Linked DNA regions of Homo sapiens: all the other regions are linked to region 1. Evidence: fine-mapped expression QTL. A gene starts in region 1. Each other region holds a variant in brackets. All regions are shown on one strand. Distances are between the middles of the regions.

Region 1 (10,824 bases):
GGACAAGCTATCAAGTATATTACCCTAATTGCATTTTCAAGAATAAATAGTAGTTTTCCAGATGTTGGAGGGAAATAGGGGTGAGAATGGCAATAAAGGAAAGTAATTTCTAACCAAAGGAATGGCAACTAAAAAGGCATAGTGACCCAACACCTTTGAAAAATTGCTATTACATAGCTGTGCAACTACAGCACAGAAGGTAATCTATACTGGAAGCCACTTGGAAAGTATGTTTTACTCTATTGTTCTTTTATAATACAGGTTAAAATTTTTTAATATTGCTGAATCAAGCACACCTTCTAAATAATATTTGACAGTTATTATATCTGAAATGAGCCCTTGATATAAAATCATATTGTCTAATGCATATATTTTAAACTGGCAATTATCCTGTTTTATTTGGCCAATTTTTAACCATCATGTAATTTTCACATTTCTGTACCAATTTTTCTCACCTGAAAAATCTGAAAATTATCTACCCTTCTCAACTTGTTTAGATGTTTTAAAGGAAGAAGATGTAACAAAGGTAAAAGTGTTTTATTATCTTTTGTCAGGTCATGTATTTCATTGTGTAATTTATGGCATAATATATTAGGCAGTGGGCAAAAGTGAGTTAGTCTCAGTATTTACAATCAGGAGATACAAATCTAAACTAGACTATAGAGGTGTGAAATTGTAGATGACATGTAAATTTTGTTTATTTAACATACATGCAAACACAGTGGTAGTTAACTTTGTTACTAAGATGACTGAAGACAGAAGCATAGAAGCTGAGTATCAGCTTGAATAGGCCTTCTGGCATAAGAGGAATTCCAGGACAGACTCAATTTAAAATAATGATGAATGCCATCCTAGACTCAACTTAAAAAGAGAATAACTTAGAGGTAAATAAGTACAAATAGTATGAAGGTACATCTTTACTGTACTTTTAATGCCTTAAATTTATTTTTTGAAAATTACACTAATAATGCACTTCTTATTACACTAATAAGCATACAAAGTTCAAACAGAACAGATATATACAGATCAAATCCTGGAAATTCCACTTATTTCACCTTTCATTACTTTTTTCTTCCTCAGAGGTGACAACTGTCAAAAAACTCGCCTGTTACTTTGAAATTTGAAGTACAATCCACATGCAAAAAAGTGCATAAATGTTTGGCTCAATGAATTACCAGGAAGTGAATTCCTATATAACTACTACCCAGATTAAGAAATAGGATCTTACTAGTACCCAGAATAGCCCTTATCTCAACCAATCTTGCCAAAAGCTCTATCTTATCTCAAGAGAAACCAATGCTCTTACTTCCAATATTAGAGTTTATTTAACCTGTTTTTATTTTTATCTTTCAAGAATCTGGCTTTGTTGTCCAGGCTGCAGTGAACTGGTATGATCATAGCTCACTGTGGCCTGGAACTCCCTGGCTCAAGTGATTCTCCCATCTCTGCCTCCTGAGTAGCTGGACAGGTGCACACCACCATACCAAACTAATTTTTATTTTTTTCATTTTTTTTGTAGAGACAGGGTCTTGCCATTTTTCCCAGGCTGGTCTTGAACTCCTGGAGGCTCAAGTGATCCTCCCACTTCAGCCTTCAAAAATGTTGAGATTATAGGTTTGAGCCACCACGCCCAGTCCTGTTTTTAAATTTAATAATGTTTTGCTTACATACCTTCTTCGTCCTCAGCCTCAGATTTGTGAAATCCAGCATATTTCTGTGGGTAGCTGCAGTTTTTCATTTTCATGTTAGTATGATACTATAGATTCAGAATACACCACAATTCTTATATCCATTCTCCTGTTCAAGATATTTCTGTTCTTTCTTGTTTGACCTGTTTTCAATAATGCTTCCACAGGCATTCTTGTACACACACACATTTCTGTCAGGTATATGCCTAAGAGTGGCACTTGCTGGCTCACAGAGTAGACTCACGTTCAGTTGGTAATGCCAAACCATTTTTCTAAGTGGTTATACTAGTTTACATTCCTACCTGAAGTCTCTGACAGCTTCTGTAGCTCTAGATTCTCACAAACAGTATGATAAGCCTTTTTAAGTTGTAGCCATTCTGGTGGATGTGGAGTGGCACTTCATTAGTCCAGCAGAACAGTAGTATTCCTCCAATCACTGTCTGGGAAATAATGGTCTAGGAAACAAGAAAATTGGGCCAGAGTCTGGGAATCTTTTGGTAGATCTATGGATGTTACAAAAAGTATTCTTTGGCTATGAAGCTTATAAAATCAAATAGAAACCAGCATTATAGCTCCTACCCACAAAGGCTCTGAAGACCTTGAGTAATCAGAAACAGTAGACATGCACAGAGCAACCTATGAGTCCCAGCTGGAGGCTATTAGCTCTCTTCTAGTGTGAATTTCTGTGATTTATGCATGATATGTTTACAACATATGGTCAGACACCACTAAGGCTCCAGAGACCTTATGTTGGTAATCAATGACTATTTCACCTTAACCCTCTCAGAATCCACTCACTGAAGATTTGCAAACTACCTGTCGTTCTGTCTACAGAAAAAAAGTACGAAAGTCACAATGAAGTTAGAATCATAGCAAATGATACCACACCTCTGGTCACTCTTCCTTTATATAATTTTCTACTTTTAATGACAAGATAAATTAGTTTCTTCAGCAACAAAGAGTAAAGCTCTCTTTGCTGGCATTTATTTATTTTTCTTTTTTTCTATGAGGAATATCGCCACAATAATTATCATTTACTTTTCTTATTTTGTTCAAACCAGTTCTCATTAAAATGTGGCCCAGTATAACCTAAGAAAAATCAGTTCCTCAGAAGACGTCATCAGAAAACTCTTTGGAGCATCTGGATACCCAAAACTGAGTGATAGAATTAATATTCTATTAAATATTACTAGTAATGGTAAAATGAGTGTGGAGCAGTAGGGACTGGCACTTAATGAACATTTAGTTGAGAGACAGTGAGCAGGGCTAGTTTGTTCATGAGTAGAGAAGAAAAAGTTAAAAGTGCCTAGAAAATAGGAATCTTTCATGACAGAAAGTGTACACAATGAAACAATGAAATGTTATAAATTTACACTAAACGTGTGAGTATCAATGATCTAAATTAGTGGAAGCTGATTTCCTTTGTGTTCTTTCAGCATCTGACAAATGCTTGTATTATGAGTGATCTTACCCGATTACAACTGCTTGTGTTGGGATGAGATGTGAGGTGCTGTATTAGTCCATTTTCACACTGCCATAAAGAAACACCTGAGACTGGGTAATGTATAAAGAAAAAGAGGTTTAATGGACTCACTGTTCCACATGGCTGGGGAGGCCTCACAATCATGGTGGAATGTGAAGGAAGAGCAAAGGCACATCTTACATGGTGGCAGGCAAGAGAACGTGTGCAGGGGACACGTTCCTCTTTATAAAACCATCAGCTCTCATGAGACTTATTCATTATCACTAGAACAGCATGGGCAAAACTCGCCCCCATTATTCAATTACCTCCCACCAGGTGCCCCCCATGACATGTAGGGATTATGGGAGCTACAATTCAAGATGATATCTGACAATTCAAGATGATATCTGGGTGGGGACACAGCCAAACCATATCAGGTACTAACTACGTTTTACTTCCCTCACATTTCATTGCTTCTTCACCTGTAAAGTGTGTATAATAATACCTCATATGGGTGAAGTTTAAATGAACATATGTAAAGTGCTTAGAACAATGTCTGGCACATAGTACCAATAAATGTTAGTTTTGTTATTGTTACTAATATTATTAAATGTCTTCATCATTACCTGAGGCTCTTCCCCTACCCTCCCCAATTCTGGCCAGATAGCCAAGGCTATTATTGCCTAAGTGGAATTGTCGTTGGAGATGGACAGAAGAATTGTCAAATTCTTGTGCTTTATATTTAAATTCTTGTGTTAGGGGTTGAATTGTGCCTCCTCTCAAAAAGTTCTAATTCTGAGTAATTCAGAATATGCCCTTATTTTGAAATAGGGTATTTACAGAGATAATCAGGTTAAAATTAGGTTATGAGGGCGGACCCTAAACCAAAGTGACTGGTGTCCTTATAAAGAGGAGAAAATTTGACACAGAGGCATGCACAGAGGGAGGAGTACGTAAAGACAGTGATGCAGGGAGTGCACCATGTAAAGACAGAGACAGAGACTGGAGTTATGCTGCCACAAACCAAGGAACATCTGGGGCTACTAAAAGCTAAGAGAAGCAAGAAAGTATCCTTCCCCTGCAGGTTTCAGAGGAAGCATGATCATGCTGACAACTTGATTCTGGCCTCTGAGTAGCCAGAATTGTGAAAAAAATGATTTCTGTGTCTAAGCCCCTCAGGATGGCAGTTTGTTACAGCAGCCCTAGTAAACTGATACATTAGACATAAGACAAAAAGATTTCAAGGGAAAACAAGTGGCTCCAGCTTACCTTTGGTACAGAAAGAAGAGACCCAAGCAAAAACTCTTTTGAGTCTGTGAAGGAAGTTATGAAGAAGGAAAGGAGTCTCTGATAAGGGCTCCTTACATAGTTTGCCAATCTAGGATTAGCTAAAAAGATGAAAAGATGAGAAGTTTCCATCTATTTACACTATTCTAGTGTGGCAGAGATTGTGCCTCGCTTGCCTGAAGCCTGCAGAGTGCATTACATCCCATGGTTTACAAACAGCAGAACAGAGATGGCTGTGTGAGGCGCCTGGGGCAGGGAGGAAGGCTTAAGTCAGCCAATTACAGCCAAGAGTGACCCTGGGAACATGCTGCTTTTTCTTCTCTCCTCCTAAAGGACAGGAACAAAAGTTTCCTTAGAGGAAGAAGTGACAAAGAGGGGATGCTGCCATGCAAAGCTGGAGGGATGCTATTCCCGGGGCCCAGTGGGCCTGTGGGTACGTTAGTAGATATGAGGGATAATGATGGTCATGGATCATGCAGGACTCCTGGCCTCAGTGGATGCCCATGTGGAGAAAGGGGGAACGGGATCATACTCTGCTTTCTCTATATATGTACACAATCCTGAACTTAGATCAGTCTCCATGAGAAGGAGAGATAGAAGAGGAAAATCATGTATTGGTTGAATGCAAACCCAAAATCATTGGGAAAAGCCTCAAGTAATTTAGTTTACCTGGAACTGACTAGATTTATTTTTCTGCCATTAGACAAAATGGGGGCCACAATTGAAAACGAAGTATGTAATTAACAGTTCTTGAACACATGGCTGGGAAATATGGTATCAGCTATATTTGTTTTTCTTCTTTGTATGAGCTCCTTTATGGCAGGCACTGTGTGTTTCTCTCTGTGTCTTTTCAAGTCTAATATAATACTTGACATCATTTTTGTCCATCCATACAGTTGGTTTGTCAATATGAATGTATTTATTTAATTGATGATAAACTGTAATAAAATCATAGTTGTTTGCTCTAAAGTAGATATGAAAGGTCAGATGAAACAATAACATACATCTGGATTGAGAAATATCTTAATAACTGATGGATTATTTTTATTTTCTTTATGTATTGTGTGCTTCAATATCCTAATAAATAATATTAGCTAGGTTCACTGATGTATAGAATCTTTTTCTACATTTAGATATTTCTTGCAAATGTTTTACCAGAAAGCAACACAAAAATACTATCAGTGAGTATGTGTTTACACTGTTCTCTAAGGAGTCAAATTCCTCACCTTGAAAATAATTCATCCCAGGAAGAGAAAAGGTTTTCAAAAGACTAGAGCAGGCCACAAGGGAGCTTTCGCAAAACTCTACACGTAAAGGGTAATGTAAACTTAAAACCTATTTTTCAAACAGTAATTTATATATCTTTTAATTTTAGTAGTTTATGTGTGAAACAATCATGCAAAACAACAAAGTGATAAAATTTTTTAAAAAAATTAGTGAGATGCAAATAACTGAATATGTAAAAGGTCTCATACATATTTATATGTAGTAGATAAGTTACATTTTTTTAGTGTGTTGGGAAATTTTAGCTCACATCACCTCTCTACTGTCATCTTGGGGCACTTTCATGACTACCCATGCTTCATGCAGGTTTACTTTCCTCCCTGTGACAGAGGATAATGGGAATGTTTTTTCTTTGGCTCAATTTTGTGTGTGTCCGCCAGTAGATGGCGGTACCACTTTGAGTGCGATCGGCCTTTTTTTCTTTCTTTTTTTTTTTCCTCAAAGCTGTTTTCTGATATATGTTGGGTACCATAGAGTGAATCTCAGAACAGGAAGCGGAGGCATAAGCAGAGAGGATTCTGGAAAGGTCTCTTTGTTTTCTTATCCACAGAGAAAGAAAGAAAAAAAATTGTAACTAATTTGTAAACCTCTGTGGTCAAAAAAAAAAAAAAAAAAAAAAGCTGAACAGCTGCAGAGGAAGACACGTTATACCCTAACCATCTTGGATGCTGGGCTTTGTTATGCTGTAATTCATAAGGCTCTGTTTTATCAGGTAAGCTGACAAAACATTTCATTATCTGCACCATAGAACCTAGCTACCAGGTCATTTTCCTTACTTTAAAATCATCTTCATGCTGCTATTTTTAACCCAGTGTTGTTTAAATGTAAATTACAGGAACCAAAGGCATCGTTTGATGTGTAAACTGCTTACTATTTCTTTATCTTTCAAAGAAAATAGAGCCTGTCTGGAAATGGTGATTTATGGTACATACTAGGCATCAATGGTCTTGTGTTTTTGTAGATGCTTATGATTAATTGTATTCAGAAAAAATATTTTTTATTATACTTAAAGCTAGTCTAATGAGTTTCCTGGCTGTATGTCATCTATTTAAATGCCCAGTGTGTCCAGTATTTTTTAAACATAAATGTATAGTGAAATTGGAACTATCATTCTTGTGCTTTAGTTTTTTATTTAACAGCTTTAGAGAGGCCATGCATATAGGGAGTGATAACAATATAGAGGTGTTTGGCTTTGTGAAATACACTATCATTTTTCTCTAAAATCTGTTTTCATAGAGAAAAGAACACCAATACTAACCATTTAAAAGAGGTTGAACCTTCAAAAAATAAAATAATCTCTATATGTTCCATAATATGCTACTTCTTTATCCTTTAATATATTCATTTTATATTAAATGTTTACCTTTTAATTTATTGATTTAAAGATTATTATATATTCTTAATTGTTCTATAAGCTTGATAGATTGCTGTTTTTCTGTATATATTTAATAACTGTTTATTTTTATTAATTACCAGGAAGAACCACTGGAGCCATAAAACAATAATTTACTTTATCTATGATCCATATTGTCTGTAGTTGTATTTAGAATATTCTATATCATAACCATAAATGTTTCATTCAGTTAGCCACCACATAATTAGAATAAGAAATTATTGACAGAAAATCTATACATATTAATTGAAAGATAAGTTTTAAAAATCATACAGGGTTTTAAAATACACAACAGGTAGTATAATGTGGCTTATGAGGACAAAGATAAAGGCATAAGTGCTTGTAGGAATTTGCATGGAAACATTTCATCACATTCACTCCAAATAGAGTGTGCCCTATATGAAATGAAGACTTCTGATTTCAACAGGGCTTCCAGTCAGTACTGGCTAAAAGGGCTTCAAAAATAGAACTTAAGGCCTCCAAACTGTAATTCCTAATGATATGTTGAAAAATATTGACATCTCACTTAATATTTTACATTGAGTAGCAATAATAGTCCCCCCAAAAACATTTCAAAATAGTGGTTGCCTGAGAGGAGAGCCCTGGGTCTTGTCTATTTCAGAAGAATTCCTACCATAGGAGATAAAGAAAACTATTTCTTTGGACAGGGTTCCCAGAAATGGCTGTTAATTAACTTGAGTGTATTGTACACACCATGCTTCTCTACAGGTGACTAAATGTGAGTAACTTTGTTCTGAGTAAGCATCAGAGCTGGTCTTGATTGAACTGGTTTACATTTATGAATGAATGCTTAATTTTGGCCCCAAATGTTAGCTTTTATTTTTCTTGGTATAGTTGCAACAGTCTCTTAGTTATTCATCTATACATGTGGTCGCCATGTGAAAAAGCAAATACACTCAGAGTTCTTCACTTCACAAAATGCGCTCTTTCAAAAATTTCGGAAATTAAACCTGCTTTGATTAAATGATATATCAAACACATTTGAATAACTTACTCTTTAAAAGAATGTAGTGGTGATTTCATTTGTAAAGTTGAGAAAAATGCTGTGATTTATTTGAGTACTGAAGATAAAAAGGTTGAACCCTGAGCTGAAAGTCTTGGGATCTGGTTCATGTTCTGCTACTAGTGAGTTTTGTTGTCTCAGAAAAGACCCCAAGTATCACTGAAGAGCATTTTCCTTGCCTACAAAGGAAGGAAATTAGAATCAAAGCTGTATAAGAATACTTTGTTTTTAAAATTTTCTGATCCTCATTTATTTGGATTTTTCTTCAGTTGGTTTCTCAGCTTAATTAAGATACAACTTTGACTCTCACTGAGTTGTAAATTATGATTGATGTGCTAAACATGAAAGTGGTAAAATAGAGAAATAGGGGCGTTTCTTGGCCAGTTCCTTCTGTAGTGGAAACAAGCAGGAAACAACATGGAGAAGTGGTTAAGAGCAAGAGCTTGGCAGGTTACATTTTATGGCCACTATTACCTGACAAGTTATTTAAACTCTCTGAGCCTTTATTACATCATCTTTAAAATAGGAATAATAATGCCTGTGTTACAGGATTGTGTAACTAAAATAATGTCTGTTCAGTGCTTGGTATAGATCCTGGAACATGATTACGAACCTCCTTCCTCTCTCTCCCTGCCATCCTAACTCACATCAAAAGGAACAGGACAAACATAAAGGCATAAATTTTCATCATTGTTATTATTGTTATCGTTAGTGCTGGTGATATAATATCTTCCACCACAACAGGAAGGATAGAATAAAACTGCCAAATAATTATGTACCTGAAAAGTGAATAATTCTCATCCTGGAAGGATGCCCTTGCTGAAACAACAACAATTGTGTACCTATAATAGTATCACTTAGTGTTAACATTCCAGGCAATTCCTGGAGAGTTTATAGAACTCATAATGCCTTCCAGAAGACAGTTATTTATGCCCAATATGTTATCACGGACTTCAAAACTTTCTTCTTCTTATGAAAATAGAGGCAAAGGGCCTTATTTCACGTTGCCTTAAGAGGATATACCTGTTAGACGAAGTTTCTGTAAAGATTCACAAAGGGAATCTAGGTTTCACCAAAACCACATTTAAACGCCAAGTAATTTCTACTAAGACCACCAGATAACTGAACCTAAATCTCAGGAAAGTCTTTGCTATGTGATCAACTCACAAACTCTCTAATGCTTCAATTCTATTAACGGTACAATAAGATGTGGAAAGGCAAATTGTGCTTGATGAATGGTTGATGGACTGCAAAATCCCTGCTTTCCTCCAAAGGTTGTTTCTAAGTGTAGCTTCGTGCTCCTGACAGCTGTGTGCTACTGGGGTCTTTGGGAGCTAGAACTTGGATGACCTTTCAGCACCCCAGGCCTCCTAATCCTTCCCTTCAACCACCCTAGGCCTCTTTAAACTGACTCAAGTAACTGCGCTGTCAGCTTCATCTTCATGGCAGCCAAGATGACTTAATGGACTCTTGATTAGGCAGATCTGAGAGGGCTAAGAGCTTGGGAGGCTTAAAAATATGAGGGTAGTGTTTCTCAACTAGACAAATGCGGTGCTTGGAATTTGTTGCTCATCTGTCTCTCAGTTCTAGGTCACTCCCAGCTCTTACGAGTTCTTATCTTTAGGGTTGATGATAACTAAAAGCATCCATAAGAATAAGCATTTAAAGATTTTTTTTCACCAAGAAATTAACACTTGATTATATAGTGATATTTCTTTACATAGGTAGCTGTGAAGATTACTTTTTTCTGATTTTCATTTATGTATAGAAACATGAACTCACTGAAGGTTGGGAATTCATGTTTCATTTGTCACCTAAAAATATATTATTCATTCGCACCTTAATATTAATGGTTGTTTTACCAGTTTTCCAAAACTGTGAGGATTAATTACCCACCTACCAGTGAAATATAATTACTTAACTCTATTTCTGTACTTTTAGGTTCGTTTTAAATTTTCGATTAATTTTAATTCTAACTGCTTTCATTTTCAAAATGTCATGCTTACGTTTTACCTTATAAACAACTTTCATGGCAAATCCATATAGAACCTGACATCTGAATTACTTCTTGAGGTAGACTGAACAATTGTAACTTGAGGTAGTTAGAAAATTTGGAAGAAAGAAAATCATATTCTTGCTTTATATTGTCGGTTCACACATTTATCTTTGATTGAGAAGCTACTGTTTTAGTTCAGCTTTACCTGAAAATATTTTTCCCTCTGGGATGAAATTAACACATTCTTTGTTTATATTTTAATGGGATGTAACAAGTGCAGACACCTATTTCGGAGCAGAATAGTGTTTCCTCTTAATAATACAGCAATAAATAAAATCTTGCTCTTTTACTAAGCACAGACATACTTTGTTTTATTAACTTCCTGATAGGCACCAGCTCTTTGGATACCTAAAATCTGAATCTACATCAGAAATATAATTTGTTAAAGTAGAATAATTCTTTAAAATTTATATGAATACCTACTTAACTGGATACCACAAGTTTCAATGTGCCAAGTATTTTTTTTTTTTATTACTTTTTTTAATATCCCACTTCTTTCCTGTAAGGATTTGAAATGATAAAGGACATTCTGGAAAGAACTTTAAAGAAGGTTTTACCCAAGATCTATGAATAAAGAACAACTGAAAAGTAACTTGCAAGCAAGTTTACAATATTAAAATACAGCACATG
Region 2 (10,824 bases), 55 kb after region 1:
AAAAGATTTTAAAAATCAGTGATGTTGATGTGAAAATTTCAAATTAAAGCTCTAGCTATTAACTGAGACTAGAAGGGGAGGGGAGCAAAAGTCATCTATAGATGGTATGGAGAATAGCTGCAGTGCAAATGGAATCCCACTGAAAGGATTTAAAGGTTCAGTGCTCTTACTTGTCATATTATTGCTCTGCATATGAACTCTAATAAAAGCATTATAGTGGGGCTCACATATATATCCACTATATATGAGTTTAAAATGTATTTATATCCAACAAGACTGCAGTCAAGCCTCAAATAATCTGATTCTTAATTTTGTGTGTTGAGCATATCAATACCAAAAAATTCTTGGTGAAAATAAACTGGATACTAAAAAGCTAATTAGTCTACTGACTATCTAACTGTGGTAATCAGATATTTATTTGGGGACATTATACTAAAATACTGATGGAATTATCCCCCATTTCCCCTAGACATTACGTGCTGCTGGGAAAACATACATGATATTTTTTGTCCTGGTCATTTTCTTGGGCTCATTTTATTTGGTGAATTTGATCCTGGCTGTGGTGGCCATGGCCTATGAGGAGCAGAATCAGGCCACCTTGGAAGAAGCAGAACAAAAAGAGGCCGAATTTCAGCAGATGCTCGAACAGCTTAAAAAGCAACAGGAAGAAGCTCAGGTACTGAGTGATAAAAGCAAAGATTTATCATTATTATTATTAGTTTCTAAGTAGAAATAGTGTTATACTATAGAGGGTAGATTGGAACTGCTTTTTCATTTTATATATAGGCATTGTCATTAGAAAAAAAAGTATTCAAATATGAACTTGTTTCTGAAGTTAGAGTCTAACAAACTTTTTAGCCACTGTATATAAAGAAATCAGCTAGCGGATAGAAAATACATTAGAGATAAGGTTTACTATGGAATTGTCTCATAGAACCTAAGAGAGGAATTTAATTTTTTATTTAATTTAGAAAAGAAATAAAACTGATATTTCCAATTATTAGTGATTCACCCCTAATTATGACATTTGAGATTTTGTTCTGAAGTTAATTGATTTTAAAGGTTGACAAGAGACTTTATATATACCTATGCTTAACAATTCTTTGGGATTTCTGTAGCAAAAAAAAAAAAAAAAAAAAATGTTTGCTATAGCCCACATCAGGATATCAGGAAGGTATCTAAAGTTAGATGCCAACTTGAGATTTTTATTAATATTAAAGGCTGTGTGAGCTAGGGGTATAGTGAATGGGACATTAATGTGTTGAGGAGAAGAGACGGAAACACAGTACTGTATTAAAAGACAGAAAAAAAAATCCATATACTGAAAGGTGAAGACTCACGAATATATAGTAAAAATCTGATTCATGCCAGTTAGAATTATAATTTCTCAATATTTTTGCCAACATTTGGTATGGCCAGTCTTTTTAATTTTAGCCATTCTAATAAGTATCTCATTTCTGTTTTGATTTTCATTTTCCTAATTACTAATGTTGAGCACCTTTTTCTGTTCTTATTTTCCATCTGTATAGCTTCTTTTATGAAGTGGTTGTTCAAATCTTTAATCCCCTCCTTTTTTTTTAGTTAGGTTGTTTGATTTCATATTATTGAGTTTTGAGCATTCTTTGACTCTTTGGGATGTAAGTCCTATATCACATATATGCTTCTCAAATATTTAAAGTGCAGTTTATCCAGAGTATTATTTCTTAGCTTTTTTGTTTAAATCATTCTTTTGGATCTAAGAAATTTTTGCCAAGTCAACACCATGAGTATTTTCTTCTAAATTTTCTTCTTAAGTTAGTTTTATGCTTTATATTTAGGTAAATAACCCATTTTAGTTAATTTTTGTATAACATATGAGTGATATGTTGAGATTCACTTTTTTAAAATGAGTATCTAATTATTCCAACTGCATAAAAACAAAATATTCATTCTCCACTGCATTGCCTTTGAACTTTTGTCAATTATTAGTTGTCCATAGGTGAGTTTGTCTATTTCTGAACTCTATTCTGTTTAGTTTATTTGTCATTTTTATACCAGTACCACACTCTCTTAATTCCTGTACCTTTTATGACGAGTCTTGAAATAACATAGTGCAGGTCCCCAACTTTTTGTTCTTTTTTTTTTTTTTCAAAGCTGTTTTGGCTGTTTTATGTCCCTTGTAGTTCTGTATGAGTTTTTTTTCTAAGTTTCATATATATATATTTTTTATTATACTTTAAGTTCTAGGGTACATGTGCACAACATGCAGGTTTGTTACATATGCATACATGTGCCATGTTGGTGTGCTGCACCCATTAACTCGTCATTTACATTAGGTATACCTCCTAATGCTATCCTTCCCACCTCCCCCACCCACCAGTTAGAATGGCGATCATTAAAAAGTCAGGAAACAACAGGTGCTGGAGAGGATGTGGAGAAATAAGAACACTTTTACACTGTTGGTGGGACTGTAAACTAGTTCAACCATTGTGGAAGACAGTGTGGCGATTCCTCAGGTATCTAGAACTAGAAATACCATTTAACCCAGCCATCCCATTACTGGATATATACTCAAAGGAATATAAATCATGCTGCTATAAAGACACATGCACACGTATGTTTATTGCGGCACTATTCACAATAGCAAAGACTCTATATGAGTTTTAAACTCCATTTGTCAATTGCAATTTGAATGATTTCTATTGCTGTCTTCAAGTCAATTATCTTTTCTTTTGAACATTTAATCTGCCGCTAATTTCATCCAGTGTATTTGTCATCTGAAACATTGTAGTTTTCACCTCTGCAAGCTTGATCTGTGTCTTTTTTATATTTCATATATCTCTAATTAACATTGTGAACATACACAATACAGTTATAACAACTGTTTAAGTTCCCTGTCTGCTAATTTGAACATCTGTGTCACTTCTTGGTCAGTTTTGATTAATTTTTCTCTTTATTATGGGTCACATATTCCTGCAGTTTTATGTTCCTGACAATCTTCAATTGAATTCCAGACACTGTCAATTTTACTTTTTTTAAGTGCTGGATATTTTTGTATTCCCATAAAAATTATTGATCTTTGTTTCGGGACATAGTTATGTTGTTTACACAGTTTGATCCTTTTGTATCTTTAAACATTTGAAAATTTGTTAGGCAGGACCAGCATACCATTTATTCTAAGACTAATTATTCCTCACTAGTGAATCAAGACCCTTCCTAATACTCTACCCAATGCGCATTTAAAACGAAGTGTTTGCCAGTGTAGGAACAGACACTGTTCTGGCACAGTGTGATTGCCAGGTGGTGTTCTCTCTTATCCTCAGCCTCAGGTAGTTTTCTAAGACACATGCTTGGTGAATAATCTTCTCAGTACTCAAGGGGAACCTGAGAAGATCCCTAGAGTTCTCTCTCTGCTCAACTCTCTCCTCTGTGGTACCCTGTTTTGTGAACTATACAACCACCCTGATTTTCCTAAACTCAGCTTCATCTCATCCATTCATGGAGTCTGCAGAGATACTTCCTCTCTACATCATAGTCTGGAAGTTCCAGGCCATAAGCTAACAAAAGCATAGAACTGACTTGCTTGCTTTTCCATTTTCCAATATCTTAAAACATCCTGATCTGATGTCCAGTGCCTTCAAAACTACTGTAACATGTATTTTGTCTGTTTTATTGGTTGCTTCAGGAGAGAGCAAATCTGGTCTCTGTTACTCAATTTTGGCCAGAAGCAGAAATCCAAATAATATTTTTATGCACTGACTTTTTTGAGGATTTTTTTCAGATGAATGGCTCCACATATTTGAAGTATTCTTTGGATGACAGTATATAACAGAAATTGGTATATTCAAAATTTAAGTTTTTAACAATTCTGAGTTACTTTGAAGATGCACAACAAATAGCATTAGGTCCTTTCTCAAGGCATTTTTTGGGGTAATGGAGATACAGCAATGAGTTGTTTAGTGAATTATTGAGCTCAACTCTAGGCATAGCTTTTGCTGAACATGCTAGCTTGACCACTTTCATCTTACCATTGGATACAGAGTAGTAATGTGGATATACCTTATTGATTTTATACAGAAAACTATAAACAAATTTGGTGAAACTTGAAAATATTTTAAAATATACCTCATGCTTGCCAGAAAGTTCTACATTTGAATTATTTAAGAGTTTTATTCTATGTCACCATAAATAAAACACATTTATAATATAATAAAATAAAAATAGCTATTTACAGGGCAAATACTTTATTTCAAGGTTTTAAATAAGTGTTATAGGAAATAATGTTCATAAATTGCATATGATTGTATTTTAAAGCACTGGGTTTTTCTATTATCATTAATAAAAGAAGACAAATTAATGTGCTTGAAAATCCTACACAGATAATGAGTTTATTCTAAAATGCAGCCATTTTAGGGTAAAATATGACATCAATTAAAAAGAGTATAGTCTTTTTGAACTTAGAAATAAACATGCACTATTTCTAGTAGAAGTTTAAAGAACCTATGATTATGATGAGTTCGGCTAAAAAACATCAGTTCTATTACCTTAGTAGTCAGTTACTGAATCTTAGTGACCAAATCATCACAATTTGATTCAGCTTTAGCTTCATACATATAAAATTTAAATTTATCCAAGGTAAAGTATAATACTGATTGGAGTAGCACAGTGCCAAATCCATTTTAGTTCCTTATTGACAACACAAGTAATGATGACTAGTAAATTATCAATGTTGAAGCCAGGAGGAAGTGGAGGCAAAGACAGAATTAGTGCACCTATAAGATCATTTATGCTGCAGTGTAGCTTAAGTCTCCCTAACCACCTACGACTCTTCAAAAGTTACTATCTAGCCAATGACTTCATGAAGGCTAGCATCACTTCCATCTTTGTTTATTATTGGTTGAGGGGCCACCTAGGGCTAGTCACGGTGTAGGCATGAGAAAATAATGTGGAGAAACACAAACCCTGCAAAGAAATCAATGTTTTGTCCTAGATCATTCTAATTGTGTTTGACATTTAAATTGTGATATTTAAGTGCCTAATGTTGCCCAGCTTAGTATATCCCATAGCAGTCTATATTGCTCTGATAGGAAAAAATTTGGGAGTAAGCTCTAGAACAAAATTCGAAATAGTAGCTCTTAAGAAATCTAATATAATTGGGGTAGAACAGAAATAGGTATAATGTCTTGTAGCTTTGAATGGGATTTTAACTGGATTATATACATAAAATGAACAAAGTATTAGTTATGTGGTTATATTTTTACGGACACACAGATACAGTGAGTTACAGAGCCTACTTTGAATCACACAAAAATGTTATAAGAAAATGTAATTTCCTGAGTAAATATTAAGTGAAATTTCTTATTTGTTAAAAGAGGAATTCAGCAAGTTGGCTGTGAAAGTAACACAGTTATTCTCATACGCAGGACATTGGTAGTGTCACAGAGTTGGGTATAAACAGGTACACAGACATGAGAGATGACAGGAAACATCTGCCTTTGAGGGAACTGGCAAATCACTGGAAGTGGAACAAATGACAGATTTGAGTTGATGAGTGA[C/A]ACAGAAAATGTGTCTGAGGTTACCTTTGTTGCCTTAGAAATCTGTTTTGGTTTTGAGTTATTTGAACTGTTACCCAGAATAGGTTTGGAAATAATGTCTTATGCAAAACAAAGTTTGTGGCCGGGTGCGGTGGCTCGCGCCTGTAATCCCAGCACTTTGGGAGGCTGAGGTGGGTGGGTCACTTGAGGCCAGGAGTTTGAGATCAGCCTGGCCAACATAGTGAAACCCTGTCTCTACTAAAAATACAAAAATTAGCCAGGTGTGGTGGCTCACGCCTGTAATCCTAGCTACTCAGGGGGCTGAGGCAGGAGAATCACTTGAACCCGGGGGTGGAGGTTGCAGTGAGCCGAGATCATGCCATTGCACTCCAGCCTGGGCGACAGAGTGAGACCCCATCTAAAAAAAAAAAAAAAGTTTGGAAGTGATTTAAATGGACATAAGTTGTAGGATTATGGTAAGGGACTATTACCACCACTTCCTTTGTTTGCAGGGACAAACAAGTCAATAAATGATTAACACTGTGTGTTGTGTGTTTGTGTCTATATAAAATAGAAAAGAGAATTAAGGACTTTATTTGGATAAGAAAGGGTATATATATATTCACTGTTTCAACAAATGGTGTATATTATGTACCTCATATGTATCCAGAACTCTGTAACTATATTTAACTTGCTATAGATAAGTGATTCATTTATTCACTTTATTTTGCATATATAGTCAGAGTTATAAAATGTACTTAATATTTCTCATTTTACATCATGAATTATATTAAAAGTGATACTGATGATCAATAATTCCATTAAAAACCTGGCTATATGACTCTATAAAATTTTATAAATATCTAAATTCTGAATTACTGTTTTATTTAAATGCTGGGTATTGTCTTATATCAAGTCTTAGATTTGAGCTTCCATTATGAATATAGTGCTTAATATAAATAAATATGTTACATTTTATGTGTTGCTTGGTCAAACACATAAATTTAAAATCATATTTAGTACTAAGTTTCCCTCCCTGAGATCATTGTAATCCTAGAGAATTTGCAGCATAGTAATTTTAGATTTAAAATCTTTTTTAAATTTTTAAACATGAAGTTTAAAAATGAAAACTACTTAGGAGAGTTTGCTTCTTCTCAAGAAAGATGAAACATAAAGCACAAAGTGTTGTCAAAGCATTATAAATAGGTTTTATCTCCATTTCTTCCTAAAATATGTTGTTATATAGACTGTTATGACAGTCTTTTATGATGTCTTGAAAAGTCAAGTCTTTTATGATGTCTTGAAAAGTCAACTTGCTATCTGTAGCAAGTTAAATATAAGTTCTATAAAGTTCTTCAGAAGCATCAAAGTCAAGGTTAAGTATGTCTTGTTCTTCCCCCACCCCCACCCCAGTGTCTGAGACAATTGATAGCAAAGTACATTTTTAAATCTTTATTCACCAATTATTTACTGAGCCTTATTTATGTCAGGTGACATACTAGTCACTGAGCATACAATGATACAATTTCTATCTAGCTTACAGTTAATGGGAAAGATAATATATTAGATAAGTTAGATTTGTTTGTATTTAGTGATGACATATGTAAAAAGTTTAACTGATATTGTCATAATTTAATTATTTTCACTTCTGTGGTTACATTTACAAATAGTAATATACTTAATGAGAACTCAGCTTTGATGCACACCATATTGTTTCATATCCTCTGTATGTCATTGTTAGATCATTTCCAGTCTAAAAATACTATTTGCCATGTTTCACCTCAGAGCTGACTGTGTTTCATTTGTAGGTACAGAAATTCAAAGTGCTTAAGAATACTTAGTGCTGCAATATAGAAAGAAAATATTTGAAGCAGTTCTCATAATCCTTTGAATGAATTTATGTAATGCTATGTTAATCATTTGTTATTTATAATATTAAATAATCTATGAACGTTTAACATTTTTTAAGTGATATGTAATAAATTCTCTGGGAGTAACATGATCACAGAGATGTGAACTACAGTCCTAAATGTAATTCAAAGGAAGGAAGAGGATAAGCTATCTAATACATTTCCCTACTTCCATCTGGAGGTAAAATAGTAGACACTTGAAATGTTTTATGTTCACAAAAAATAAAAGAAACAGTCTTTTGTACTGGATTTAGAGGGGAAAAAATACGACTCAGCTGCTCAGAAGTGCACACAGGAGGAAACGTTTTACAGATGGAATCAGAATGGTAGTTAGATAAGCAACCACCACGAAGAAAACATTTGCTTTTTAAAGTATAGAAGACACTTTGAAGAGAACAGTTGTCACCAACCCCCCCCCCCCAAAAAAAAGACAATCCAGAAGATAGGCAAAACCAGATTTTTCTTGCTTTAATGCATACACTAGCATATTGCTTTATATGATTTAAAACATAAGGGTCATTGTTAAGTAAACTCTTGTGGTGAGACAAAATAAAAGGACTAGAGGATAGACTTTTCACTTGTAGTTAATGAGTCTTAAATGGCAATATTTTAACCATACTCAACTGTTTTCAAAGCTCTGTGTTCTAAATAGTGCCTGGCTTTGTTTTATGACAGGCAGTTGCGGCAGCATCAGCTGCTTCAAGAGATTTCAGTGGAATAGGTGGGTTAGGAGAGCTGTTGGAAAGTTCTTCAGAAGCATCAAAGTTGAGTTCCAAAAGTGCTAAAGAATGGAGGAACCGAAGGAAGAAAAGAAGACAGAGAGAGCACCTTGAAGGAAACAACAAAGGAGAGAGAGACAGCTTTCCCAAATCCGAATCTGAAGACAGCGTCAAAAGAAGCAGCTTCCTTTTCTCCATGGATGGAAACAGACTGACCAGTGACAAAAAATTCTGCTCCCCTCATCAGGTATGATTTTCTACTAAGTGCTCTGGTTTCTTTGTCATTGCTATTGCTTTTTAGTTTTTGTATTTTGTTTTGGTACACTTTTGTACTATCTGACTTCAGTGAGGGACAGGGAACTAACATTTAATATAGTTGTTTAAATTCTTATAATAGATTGTCTTCAAAGGGATTTTTATTAAACCATTAATAAAATGTTCACCATTTTGAGACTGATTATATATACAGATAGATATATTGATATAATATATAGATATATATAATATATATTGATATAACCTATATATCAACCTGTATATATATATGTGTGTATATATGTGTCTATACACACACACACACACACACACACACACACACACACATATATATATATATAACCTACACTAGCAGACTTTTCAATGAGAGTTTTGGAATCTCTTGTTTACATTTTCCATTTTGAGACCCCAGATAAACTTATTTTCTTTGAGAATGGGTTTCTGCCTTTGTTATCCAAAGTTGTGATCGTAACATACATATAAATTTTGAAAAGAAGTGTTCTTTGGGTTTTGTCTTTATCCTTTGATTAAGAGAACTGGACTATGGTGAGTCTCCATTTTGCTTGCATAGGGTCATGCCGTGATACATTAGAATGAAATTATGACCTAAATGTTCTTGAAGAGAACAGCATCAAAGGTAGTCTATTTTTGCTCTGATTTAATGCCAACTACCTGGTTCTTCAGCATAGTTTTAAGTAAAAGAGTAAAAACTAGTTTCAATTATTTGATGTTTAGTAAGTTTTATGGATTAGTAAGTTAATGTATTGTTTACATATGTCTGATGTAAAGAATAATTAGTTACAAAATCTGTGATAAGTACAATTTTGGCTTTGAACACTATTTGGCACCATTAGAATTTCATGTGCTATGAATTGCAAATGCTTCTAATCATAACAATCTTGAGTCAGAATTATACCCTAAAAATAATGCTTTGAGAGATAATATATAAGATTAATTTAATCAAAAACTGCAAATCAACCAAGGGGTATGATATATTTTTCATAAAGAAAGAAACTTCTAAAAAAAACCAGAAGTAATAAACACAAAATTCAACATAGTATTTACTTTTGGTTGGGAGAAAAGGTAATATGCAAGTTCTCAGTGAATGTTTTATAATCTATCTTTAATATGTAAACAAATATTTTTAAAGAAAAAAGTAGACTATATTAATAACTTAAAACTTGTATTCTCATATTAGAACAAAATGGACATGAATACACAAAGAGTTTTAAGATAAAGCCATTTTTCTGCAGATAACATCAATATCAAGAAATTCAACTATTACTATCTTGTGTAATACAAATATAAAATATATTATCAAATCAGTATAACATATTTGGAATTAACTTGAAGCTCTGAAGGGCAACTTGGTTCCTCAGATCAGATTTTTTTTTCTTAAACAGTCACCTTTGATATTTTGGAATTCTTAAAACTATTAGGAGTTATTAGAATTAAGAGTATATGAAACTATAGCATAATGATGCTACAGTGAACACAAACTTTTGTGTTCATATCTCAACTCCAAACTAGTTCTGTGACGTTGGTCAAGTCACTTGTACTTTGTAAAATTTCTGTAAAATAAAGTAAGAATACCTACATTAAAGAGATTTAGGGGACTAAGCAATATATAGAAAATCTGTGTGACAAAGAGTAAGTCTCTTATTAAGTTAAAATCGGTGAATGAATTTCAAGTGAGGGAAAGCAAACTTCTGAGTAGTTTCAATTACTAACAAATGTATATACATAATTTGATAGCAGTATTAGTTCCTTTATTGTTTCATCATTTTGCTCAAATAAATTTTGTAGATCAGTTCATTCAGTCCAATCAACAAATATTTATTGATCGCCAACTATGTAGCAAGCATAGTTCAAGATGCTGAAAATACCTCAAAGAATAAAAGAGACTCAATCCACTGACCTCATGGAAATTTTTTCCAAAGGAGACGGACAATGAATAAAATAAATAAGTTATAGACTGTGTTAGAAGGTAACAAATGTTAAGGGAAAAAAAAGTAAGCAGGAAAAGAGGAACAGGAGCCATAATTGGAGGTAAAATTTTAAATAGGGTGGTTTACAATGACCTCACTATTAAGACATTTTGGGAAAGATTTGGAGGAGGCAAAGAAAGAGGCTCTCTTAAGGAACAGCATTCTAAACTGATGAAAGAGGAAGTGCAAAACCCTGACATGGTAGCATGCCTGGAGTGCTTAAGAAGCAACTGGTAGACTTGGTTTGCTGGAGCTGAGTGAACCACAGACAGGCAAGAGCAGAGAGCTTAGCTGATGGCCAGTGTTTTAATACTAAAAGCAGAATCAGTACATACATGTGGTAGATGTCGCTCATTTTATATTTGTAAATAGACAGAAGATAGATGGATAATTTCAAAAGTGAAGGAAATAATCTATT
Region 3 (10,824 bases), 240 kb after region 1:
TAATCAAAATTGCTAAATGAATGATGCTTTCAGAAGTTTCCTGTTTTTGACATCAGAGTTATATTATAATGCTCTATTTCCTGTTTCCTCATCTAAATAGAATTTTGCTTCAGGCAATTTTTTATCTGAACTTCTGTTTGTAGAAACCAGGGATATTTATTGAATTGTTTCTTGCTGGCTGTTTGATCTTAACAAAGTATTTAAATGGTACTGATGCCCTGGCTTGAGCAACGGAGCATCCCAGACTTTCAGTTAGTTGCACACAGCACACACAAAACTCATTTGAGTTACAGCTAAATGCAATTACAGGCCTCAGAGTTAATACATAGATCACTTCTTATTTAAGGCAATTCACCTTTGAATTGGTTAACCTTTAATTGTTTATAAAATAATAAGATGGGAAACAAAGTTGCTACCTAATATGTTAGTTTCCCCAAATAAACACTTATTTAAAGGTTCATTTGTTAATCAAGTATCTGGAACTTGAAATACATTTTTATGAAAGGAAATACATTTTAGGTGATGATTAGGTTTTTATCAAGAGCTGAAGTTTTTAATAATGAACAGGGAGAGATACTGTGGCAAAACAGTAATTGAATAAAACATACATTCAATAAAATGATATGAAAAATCAATGTTTCACATTTATCCTGAGTCAAATATAGAGAGAATTAAATTGAGGACGACAAAGTGTAGTTTCTAATCATTGTTCCACCACTATTTGACCTTGAGCAAATTGCCTGGAGACCATATTTGGTAGACAGATGAGGATGTACACTTTCTTTTAAATACTTGAGAATTAGCTTAAGTGCTCTCATTTGACAACTTGCTCAGTATTTCATAAATGCCAGGAAATTAGCTCAAATCCTCTGATGAGCTGCATTTTCTGTGTTCAATTTGTATAAATTCAATAAATATTTATTGAGGGTCTTCCATATGCTGGGTATGTGTCTTAGCAAAATAGTTTTAAAGTACAATATGAAAGATCTGATGCTCAATAGTATATCATTAGTGAATTGCAAATTAAAATCTAAATGAGATATCACTATATATCCACTGGATTGTCTAATAGTTTAAGTTGTCAGTATTAAATATTGAGAAAAATGTGGAGCAGCTGGAACACTCATACATTGCTAGTGGGAGATTAAAATGGTGCAGCACTTTGTAAAGCTAAACATATATTTACTATACTACCCAATAATACCACTAAGTATTTACCAAGAGAAAACAATTTTCTACACGAAGACTTGTACATGAATGTTCACAGCAGCTTTATTCATCATAGCTAAAAACTGGAAACAACTCAAAAACATGTAAGTAAATTGATGAACAAATTGTGGTATATCAATTTAATGGGATACCATCCAACAATGAAATAAATCAATGAATGATAACACTGATTGACATGAATAATCTCAAAATCATTATCCTATGTTAATGAAGCCAGACACAAATGAGTATTTCGTATATTATTTTATTTGCATAAAAATTTATAACAGGAAAATCTAATCTATAATGGAAAAAAGTAGATTTGTGGTTGTCTGAGCTAAGGGGTAGAGGAAGATTGACGGACTGCAAAGTGCAAAAGGGAACTCCTTGGGGGTGATGGAAATAGTCTATATCCTGATTAGCAAGATGGTTACATGCATGTGTACCTTTCTCAAAACGCATAGAACATACACTTAAAATGTGCAGTGCTGGCTGGGTGCAATGGCTCACACCTGTAATCCCAGCACTTTGGAGGCCGAGGCGGGTGGATCACCTGAGGTCAGGAGTTCAAGACCAGTTTGGCCAACATGGTGAAACCCCATCTCTACAAAAATACAAAACTTAGCCAGGCCTGCTGGTGGGTGCCTGTAATCCCAGCTACTTGGCAGGCTGAGGCGGGAGAATCACTTGAACCCGGGAGGTGGAAGTTGCAGTGAGCAGAGATCGTGCCATTGCACTCCAGCCTGAGCAACAGAGAGAGACTCCATCTCAAAAGTAAACAAATAAATAAATAAATAAAATGTGCAGTGCTTCAGTTTTCTGAAGATTTCCAGGAGCTTCGGAGGAATTAAACAACCTTTGAGGTAATGACAGGAATTTGAGTTGAGAAACCACCAGCGATGTCAGAGGGATTTTCAGAACCCATGAAATCAGTTCACAAGAGAAAGGGAACACTTTCATCTTTTAAGAAGTCTGCTTACAGTAATATCAGTCATGTATGAACTTGAAAGAGAGGCTTTTCCCAGACTTTCAAATGCCAGAGCTGCCAAAATCTGAGTTCGGCAAAAATGAGGAGGGCAGGGGGTCAAGTAAGAGATGCGAAGCCAACCAGCCTTCCCACTGCCTCCCAGACTGCAGGTTCCCACCTGCTTCTCTGCAAAGCTTTAATTACTAAATTGAGACCCTCTGACTCTATTGCCTAGTGGTCATGGGGGCTGTTGGAAATGTCATTCAGTAGCAGGAAAACGTTTCCCCATTGAATAAATTTTAAAGGGAAAAGTGAGAGAGAAAAAAAGTAGTGTCTTAATTACAATATGTTTGCTATGCTAGTGCAACTTCCAGACAAACAAGTAACACCACCAATCACCCTCACTCTCCTCCTCTCTGGTTCCAATTGGATTGCCTAAAAAAAAAACTTGACGCCGCCACCATCTCAGTCAATTAATTTCGTAAAACTGCAGATGCTCGTGCTCCTTGCTTTGAAGGATGTATGTGGGGAGGGGGAGATGTTACAAATTAAAATGGTGAGGAAGGTGTTTTAAGAAGAGCAAATAGAAACTGTGCACATGTAAATACATAAGTAGCAGTTAATAGTGTTAAGAAGCATCAGCCTTTCCTTGTTCCACTGAGCACAGTGATAAGGACCTAAATCTCCTGACATGAAATAGTAAAGACTCAATACCACTCCATCCAAAATGGAATCCAGTCTCTGGGAAGAAAGAGGAAGAAAGGATAGATTGAGGAAATTGATGGATGGAAGGGGTGAAAAAGGAAGCTAGCAAAGAAAGAAAAAGAAATTCCTAGATTTCCATCTGAGACAGGTTCTATTTGGGCTAGCTGGTGACATGATGAAAAAGTTTTTAAATGTTTGCACCATTTTCTGGACCCCAAATGCCACTCTCCAGAGATACTGTGTAGCCCAATTGACCAACCCAGAAGATCTGAGCTCTTCACAATACTGATCCTGGAACCCGGACTTCCTGTTTCGTGAAGGACCAGAACTTGGTATCATGCATATGTATTATTAACCCTTTAACTACTAAAGACCATGTTTCTTGTGAATATTTTTATTATCACTGAAATCACTGAAGGAATTAAGTTGCCTCCTTTGAATCTTATCAGATTCAAATAATGTCAGTTAGTAGCTTAACAGAAAAGTAACTAGAGATAATTTGAACCAAAACAGAACCTATAACAAATGAATAATGGAACAGTAATAATTCCAGAGTTTGCTGTGGAATAGAAAATTATTTCAAAAGGAATTTCTAAGAGGAAAATATTTCTTCTAACTAGGGCATAGAAAAATATACAAATGAAAAGGTTTTTTTTCCGTGTACCTGAATCTAAAAGGAGTTATGGTGCCTTGATAGCCACTGGCTATTTAAGCTAAAGGGAACAGTGTACATGGTTTATTTTCGCTCTTCTCCGGCATTTAAATTCTGTGTGAGTGTGTGTGTGTGCACATATGCGTGTATGCATTAGACTTGTTAGATTGCTCTTATTTTCCCCAAAAGGCACCAATTGGTAAAATGCACAGGCTTTTCAGTAGGACACACCACCTGATTCTTACAACACACACACACACACACACACACACACACACACACACACACTCCACACTGTCTTCTTACGGTTTGGTTTGGATTTTGCTACTTTTAAACATTTCCAATCTTTCAGTCTGTAGCTTCTTTCCTTTAGATAATTTACATTTTATTGGCAATATGTTTTACATTATTTAATCACCATTTTTTAAGTCATTGTAGTAGGGACGTTTAAGGCCAGGCCAACCTCATGCATAAAAAGATTCAGCAAGAGATTTGCTGTCCTGTGCTTCCCACCACATCTGGGTCAGGCCCCTGCAAAGCAAGGTCATGGGAATGTGGCTGCTGTCTGAGTTTTTCCTTTTCTAGCCCTTAGGGG[C/A]ATGAAGGTCCTTTTGGACATTGAGTTGAAAAAGGTAGTAGTATTTATAACAAATCTAAATGGATTCATATGATTCTTACCCATGCTATTTTAAAACTTCTTTTAAAAGTCAGGCTGAGCTCCTATGGCAAGTGGTCACTTTGTTCATACTGACATTTTTTAGAAAATACCTTAGGGTCTCATGTGAGTAAGAAGTAGATTGCAAGAACTTTGAGAAAGGAACACAGCTAAGGAAGGGGTAAAAGAAAGATGAACTGAAATTAAAAACAAATGTATTCTGTAAAATTTTTTTAAAAGGTAGAGATACCAAGAAATCAAGGGGGAAACATGCATTGTTGCATTCTTGCTTTCACTTCATTTTCTCACATGGATGATATAGAGAAATCAACCGCTAATAAGAATGAAGCCACTTACTATGACATATTATTTTTAACTCATGAAACATTCATAGTGCTTCATATCTCAAAAATATATTTTACATCTTTGCAAATTGTGCACCTTTGCTACTGTTTGTCTAGCAATAGGCCCGTGGTACCCCCAAAGTTAACAGAAGGAAAGCATGTAATAAAAGACAATATTATAAACTAAAAAGTAATGAGAAATGATAATAAAACTAATCAGAATCTACCTTTATTTGATTCCAAAAACTCCTTTCTCCTTACTATTTTATTTACCCCAGTGATACATGTTTCTTATTCTCCATATCAGGAATTGTCATATTCTCCCTGAAATGGTTAGGCTTTTTGTCCCCACCCAAATCTTATCTTGAATTGTAATCCTCATAATCCCCACATGTCATGGGAGGGACCTGATGGGAAGTGATTGAATCCTGGGGTGGTTTCCCCCATGCTGTTCTTGTGATAGTGAGTGAGTTCTTACGAGATCTAATAGTTTTATAAGTGTCTGGCATTTCCTCTGCTGGCACATCTCTCTCCTGCCGCCCTGTAAAGAGGTCCCTTCCGCCATGATTGTAAGTTTCCTGAGGCCTCCCCAGCCATGTGGAACTGTGAGTCAATTAAATCTCTTTTCTTTATAAATTACCCAGTCTTGGGTATTTCTTCCTAGCAGCATGAGATCGGACTAATACCCTCTCCTTATCTCATTTTTAATGATAAGGTCGAATTCTAATCCTACTAGTGAGAGACAGGACTAGCTGGATTTCCTAGGCCAACTAAGAATTCCTAAGCCTAGCTGGGGAAGATGACCACACCCACCTTTAAACACGAGGCTTGTAACTCAGCTCACACCCGACCCATTAGGTAGTAAAGAGAGCTCACTAAAATACCAATTCGGTGAAAAAAGAAATAGTCAAATCATCTATCACCTAAATGCACAGGGGGAGGGACAATGATCAGGATATAAACTCAGGCATTCAAGCCGGATTGGGAAACCCCTTTGGTCCCCTCCCGTTGTATGGGAGCTGTTTTCACTCTATTAAATCTTGCAACTGCACACTCTTCTGGTCTGTGTTTGTTCCAGCTCGAGCTGAGCTTATGCTCCCCGTCCACCACTGCTGATCGCCACTATCGCAGACCTGCCGCTGACTTCCACTCCTCCGAATCTGGAAGGATGTCTGCTGCACTTCTGATCCAGAGAGGCACCCAATGCTGCTCCCGATCGGGCTAGAGGCTTGCCATTGTTCCTGCATGGCTAAGTGCCTGGGTTCATCCTAATCGAGCTGAACACTAGTGGCTGGGTTCCACGGTTCTCTTCCGTGACCCACAGCTTCTAATAGAGCTATAACACTCACCGCATGGCCCAAGGTTCCATTCCTTGGAATCCATGAGGCCAAGAACCCCAGGTCAGAGAACAAAAGGCTTGCCGCCATCTTGGGAGCAGCCGCCACCAACGTGGGAGTTCTAAATACAAAGACCCTCCGGTAACACTAGCATCATGGAATAGAGGAATTACAAGTGGTAGAGGAATTTTAATGCCATCTAGTGTTTCCATGTGTATGAACCATACTGCAGGCCACTGCTCAAACCCACCTTTAGCTCAAGCTGTTTTCTTCATTCTCACTCCCTACTGCTTTGTAGGGAAGCCACTGTAGCTGGCACAATGGCCCATTGACTGGATAAGGGATTGGTAACTAGCCCAAGAAGAGCTCATCCCTAGGCCGTGTTAAAATAATTAATTGGGAAACCATCAAACTGAGGTGGCTCTAGTCCCCTGAGTTCCTACATGCGAACTCAAACCCAACTCAGAGGGAATGGTCATAGCCTAGGAAAATGAACTTAAGCTTAACCAATCAGAAACTGCCAACTAACCTCTAACTAGGGACTTTAAGCCTACTTTAGCCAATCAAATGTTTTCTTTGTCTTGCTTCCGAGAACACCTAATAAAACTTTTTCCGTTATTCCCCTTCAGTGGAGCCCAACCTGGTTGTGGTTTGGCACTGTGAATTCATGAATCACTGTCTGCTCAAATAAACTCTTTAAAATGTTAATGTGCTTAAGTTTATCTTTTAACAGCTGGCAGCCTCCTAGGAGGAGGTGTGGTTCAACAAGCTGTGCTCAGTGGAGGCAAAGGTATGTAGCTAAGCCTGTCAGACTCACTTGTTCTGGAATTTTCCCCAGAGAACTCAGTGACTAACCAGTCAGTTGCAAGAGAATAATGAAGTAGCCCTACAGATAAAAGCTAAGATTCCATGAGAAAAAGATCACGCTGGCCATGACAGACAGAGAAAAGAAAAATCTAGGGATACTTGGAATCTTGACAAATTTTCTAGTCCTAGATTCATTACAAAAATTTTTCTAATCACCACTTTCCCCATTCCTAAAGAAGCTCAAGTAGGTTTTTGTTTACTCACAAGCAAAGGAGAACACCTAGCATCCTTTCTATCCTTCGTCATCCCCTACAATGTCCTTGCCCAGTGGTCACGCTCAGGTTTAAATATCTCTAGTAATAATTTACCACTCAGTTTATCCCAAGACATCTCTAAGTAATTAGGTTTTAAAGCCATTGGTTATATTGAGTGAGCCTTTCAACCTCTGAGTCTTTATTCTCTGGCTACTTAAAGCACTGTGAGACTCAGTATCCTCTCATTATTCTGATCCCTCTCAATTGTAAATGTCCCAGTTGATCTGTAACTTTCCTCAAATTGTGGCTTCCAGAGCTGAAAACAATAGTCCATGTGTGGTGTGACCAACACAGATGGCCTGGATTATTGTCATCCTTGTTCTGTGTAATTTATTACAAGTACTTTACCTGACTGTGTTAGACTTTTTTCTCAGCCCCATTAAATTGTTGCATTATTTAAACTTCTTGTTAATTAAAAGCAGTATTAGAAATGAGTTGGAGATAACACACATGTTCTTACCTTGCACCTATACAGTTGGTTTTTCAGATTCAAGGTCAGGATGTTATATTTGTAAGTTAAACTTCATTTTTGCTAGGCTAAATTTCACGTTTCCAGCCTTCCATCAAATATCACTGACCACCCACCCCACCCTCTTATGATCATTACTTCCTCTAAATTGCTCCAACAAATATATCTATTTCACTCATTTGGTACATCTCTTATTCTACCTAATCAAGTTAGTCAACTTATAATGAACATTGGTTCCAAACTATAGAGCATACATATCTTGTTTTCAGAATCTATAGAATGCCACACACACAATCTTTATTGGTAACTAGTAATGATCAAAAATGAGAAATGTAGGCATATTCAATAGATCCTACATTGTTTTCCTAATCACAGCCTGTGAGCTTTCAGATATGTTACTGGGGCAATTTCAGCATTGGGTCTGATTTGTGAAACCTAGCACATTCTTTCCCCTCCTTATAGAGGATGAGTAGATAATCCTTTTGAAATGTGAGTGGATAATGTATAACTTCAATTGCTAGTCTTTTGGGTGTCCTTAGCATCTTTTTAATACATTTCTACTAAACACTTCTAAGATAGACAGTGGTCTGTCACAGGCAGTTGAGAAGGGCCATTTGGCTTGAGCTTTCAATGTTTGAAAAGCCTCAGATTAGTGATGTTATATCTATGAAACCACCTTTGTAAAAATTGTATCAGTAAGAAAATACTGGCAGTGGGGGAGATCCGATCTAGCCACCCAGCTTTTGCCTTAACCCTTCAAGCTGTCCTTAGTTATTCCTGGACTTGGGCGAAGCTAACTTTGGGAAACATTTAGTTTACAGTTTAAGTGATAATAGTCCTTCCCATAAACTCAACTGCTTTTGTAAAGCAAAGGAAAGACCACCAGGCTAAGAGGATAGAAGAGCCTGAATTCTGCTAAGGTGCAGACATAAAGGATTGCTAGCCATTATTCTGGAGATTACAAAATATACAACTTCCCCAATTACTCCAGCAAATAGCATCACTACTGCAGAACCTATGATTGGCCTTTTGAGATATCTTTTCAGGTTTTTTTGCATGTTTCATAACCAACGGCCCCACCTAAACCCACCAAAAACTAGCTTCTGTGGCCCCACCCAGAAGCAACTCAGTGCACAGGAAGACCATTTCCACATCTCTGTGATTGCACCCCCAGCCAATCAGCAGCAAGCACCTATTGCCTCGCCACCCCCACCCTTTCGCCAAAACTACCTTTGAAAAACTCTAGCCATAAAATTCTTGGAGAGATTGATTTGAATAATAACTCCATCTCCCACATAGCAATGGCTGGCCTCATGTCAATTAAACTCTTCTTTTACTGAAATGCCATGGTCTCTGTGAATTGATTTTGTTTGCGTAGCAGGCAGGAAGAACCCACTGGGCAGTTACACCTACAGCAGCATAGATACACTAAAATTAAAACATGTCACTCTTAATCTTAAACTTATGACCCATTATAACACCACCCCATTTTAAGCACTATAAATAAATAATTTTAACACATCCTTTAATTATTGTATGAATAACAATAATATTACACTACATTTGGGTTTAAAAACAAAGTGTTAATTTGTCAAATGGTTAGAAATGTATCACAATTTTGTATCACTCTTTTCTAAAATGTATTTTTCAAAATATTCTGGTTGCATTAGTAAATGGAGATGAGCCAGGCTTTTCTGTCTTTTAGAGGCCCTAGAGGCAAATGAACATCATAATTTCATTACTTAAATGTTCTCCTGATGGTCCTTATTGCTGTCCACATGAATCTTATTGTCACTTAACAACAAGGCTTTTTAATTGCTAATTCCTGTTTGGATTGTTTCTTCCATTTGGAACATTTTTAATGAGCAGCAGTGACTGTGTGAATCACTATGCTACGTTCAGCGGGGAAAAAAAAAACTTCATCAATAGCAACACAAACGTGATCCTTTCCCTCAATAAGCTTACCATTCCCACAGATACAACCATACTTAGCTATGGCATGCAATAAAGGATCGAGTATTGTATTTTAGGAGTAAACAAAATTACCCATGACCAGAAAGAAAAAGACTTAAGTCAGATTCAGAGATGTGGGGAAAGTTTGCCAGCCTCACATTTCTACACTATGGGCAATCTTGTCTCTAACCACAAAGTCTTTTTGGTCCCTTTGCTCCCACTTCCTGATTTTAGCACCACTGTCATTCTTTGTGGCAAAGAGTATTTCTAGCAAACATCATATATAAGAAGGCACTGCTGTAGCTGGGAGAGGATGCACAGTCACAGTTGTCCCTAATACTTCTACTGCCAAGGTTCCACTCCACTCTGTGCCCCAGGTTGCATGTTCTTTAGTAGTCTCTGTCAAGTGTACTACCTTGCCAGAATCTGGTCCTCCTGGCCAACCCATCCTAAGGGTATACAATGTCCTTTGTCCAGGCCAAATTGAACTGATACAGGGATGACATAATGCAAATGGAACTTCATTAAAACAAAAGAAGAAAAAAGATCAAAATCGGTAAATGAGCTCTTACTTATTCTAGTGTAACCTTCATAGATCACGTTGACTAAAAGATACTAAAGGGTACCAAGCCCCCAATTTTGGTTCTTCTACCCTGTCATTTTGGGTGTGTTTTGGGCATATTCATTAGTGAGTGATAAAAGCTGATATTATTTGAAGATAATCACAGTTTGCTTATCCACTGTCTTGCATTGTGTTATTCACGTTATAGCTGGCATGAAGATGTTACAGAAAAGGGGTACCAATCCAGACCCCAAGAGTTCTTGGATCTTGTGCAAGAAAGAATTCAGGGTGAGTCCACAGAGTAAAGTGAAAGCAAGTTTATTAAGAAAGTAAAGGAATAAAGAATGGCTACTCCTTAGAGCAGCCCAGAGGGCTGCTGGTTGCCCATTTTTATGGTTTTCTTAATGATATGCTAAACAAGGTGTGGATTATTAATGCCTCCCCTTTTTAGACCATATAGGGTAACTTCCCAATGTTGCCATGGCATTTGTAAACTGTCAGAGCGCTGGTGGGAGTGTAGCAGTGAGGGCCACCTGAGGTCACTCTCATGGTCATCTTGGTTTTGGTGGGGTTTAGCTGGCTTCTTTATTGCAACCCATTTTATCAGTGAGGTCTTTATGGTCTGTATCTTGTGCCGACCTACTATTTCATCCTGTGACTTAGAATGCCTTTACTGTCTGGGAATGCAGCCCAGTAGGTCTCAGCCTCATTTTGCCCAGCCCCTATTCAAGATGGAGTTACTCTGGTTCAAACGCCTCTGACAAAATGACTAAGCTGTAACAGTCACCTCCTCCAGCTTCTGGAGCCAGGAAATGGTACGTGATCTTACAAAGAAAATATTATGAACTGAAAA

Direction of the effects. Positions count from the first base shown, and alleles are read on the strand shown. Sizes are in standard deviations (SD) of each study's normalised expression. Not every link is listed here.
As copies of C replace A in region 3, the expression in skeletal muscle of the gene that starts at base 6,206 in region 1 goes down (small effect, 0.29 SD a copy in GTEx).

The links.
Region 2: its variant is fine-mapped to the expression of SCN3A in whole blood (TOPMed, PIP above 0.99).
Region 3: its variant is fine-mapped to the expression of SCN3A in skeletal muscle (GTEx, PIP above 0.99). The same link has a PIP of 0.9 or more in esophagus muscle, left ventricle and thyroid.

Annotation. Positions count from the first base shown.
Region 1 is chr2:165,199,432-165,210,255 of GRCh38, reverse strand. SCN3A (sodium voltage-gated channel alpha subunit 3) reads left to right here and starts at 6,206. Exons shown (of 28, transcript NM_006922.4): 1 at 6,206-6,433.
Region 2 is chr2:165,144,304-165,155,127 of GRCh38, reverse strand. It overlaps SCN3A (sodium voltage-gated channel alpha subunit 3), which reads left to right. Exons shown (of 28, transcript NM_006922.4): 11 at 470-676; 12 at 8,099-8,389. Among named protein-coding and RNA genes, the nearest start is that of SCN3A, 54 kb to the left of the region's middle. The variant C/A (reference allele first, on the strand shown) is at 5,535.
Region 3 is chr2:164,963,738-164,974,561 of GRCh38, reverse strand. No RefSeq gene overlaps it. Among named protein-coding and RNA genes, the nearest start is that of SLC38A11, 14 kb to the right of the region's middle. The variant C/A (reference allele first, on the strand shown) is at 4,129.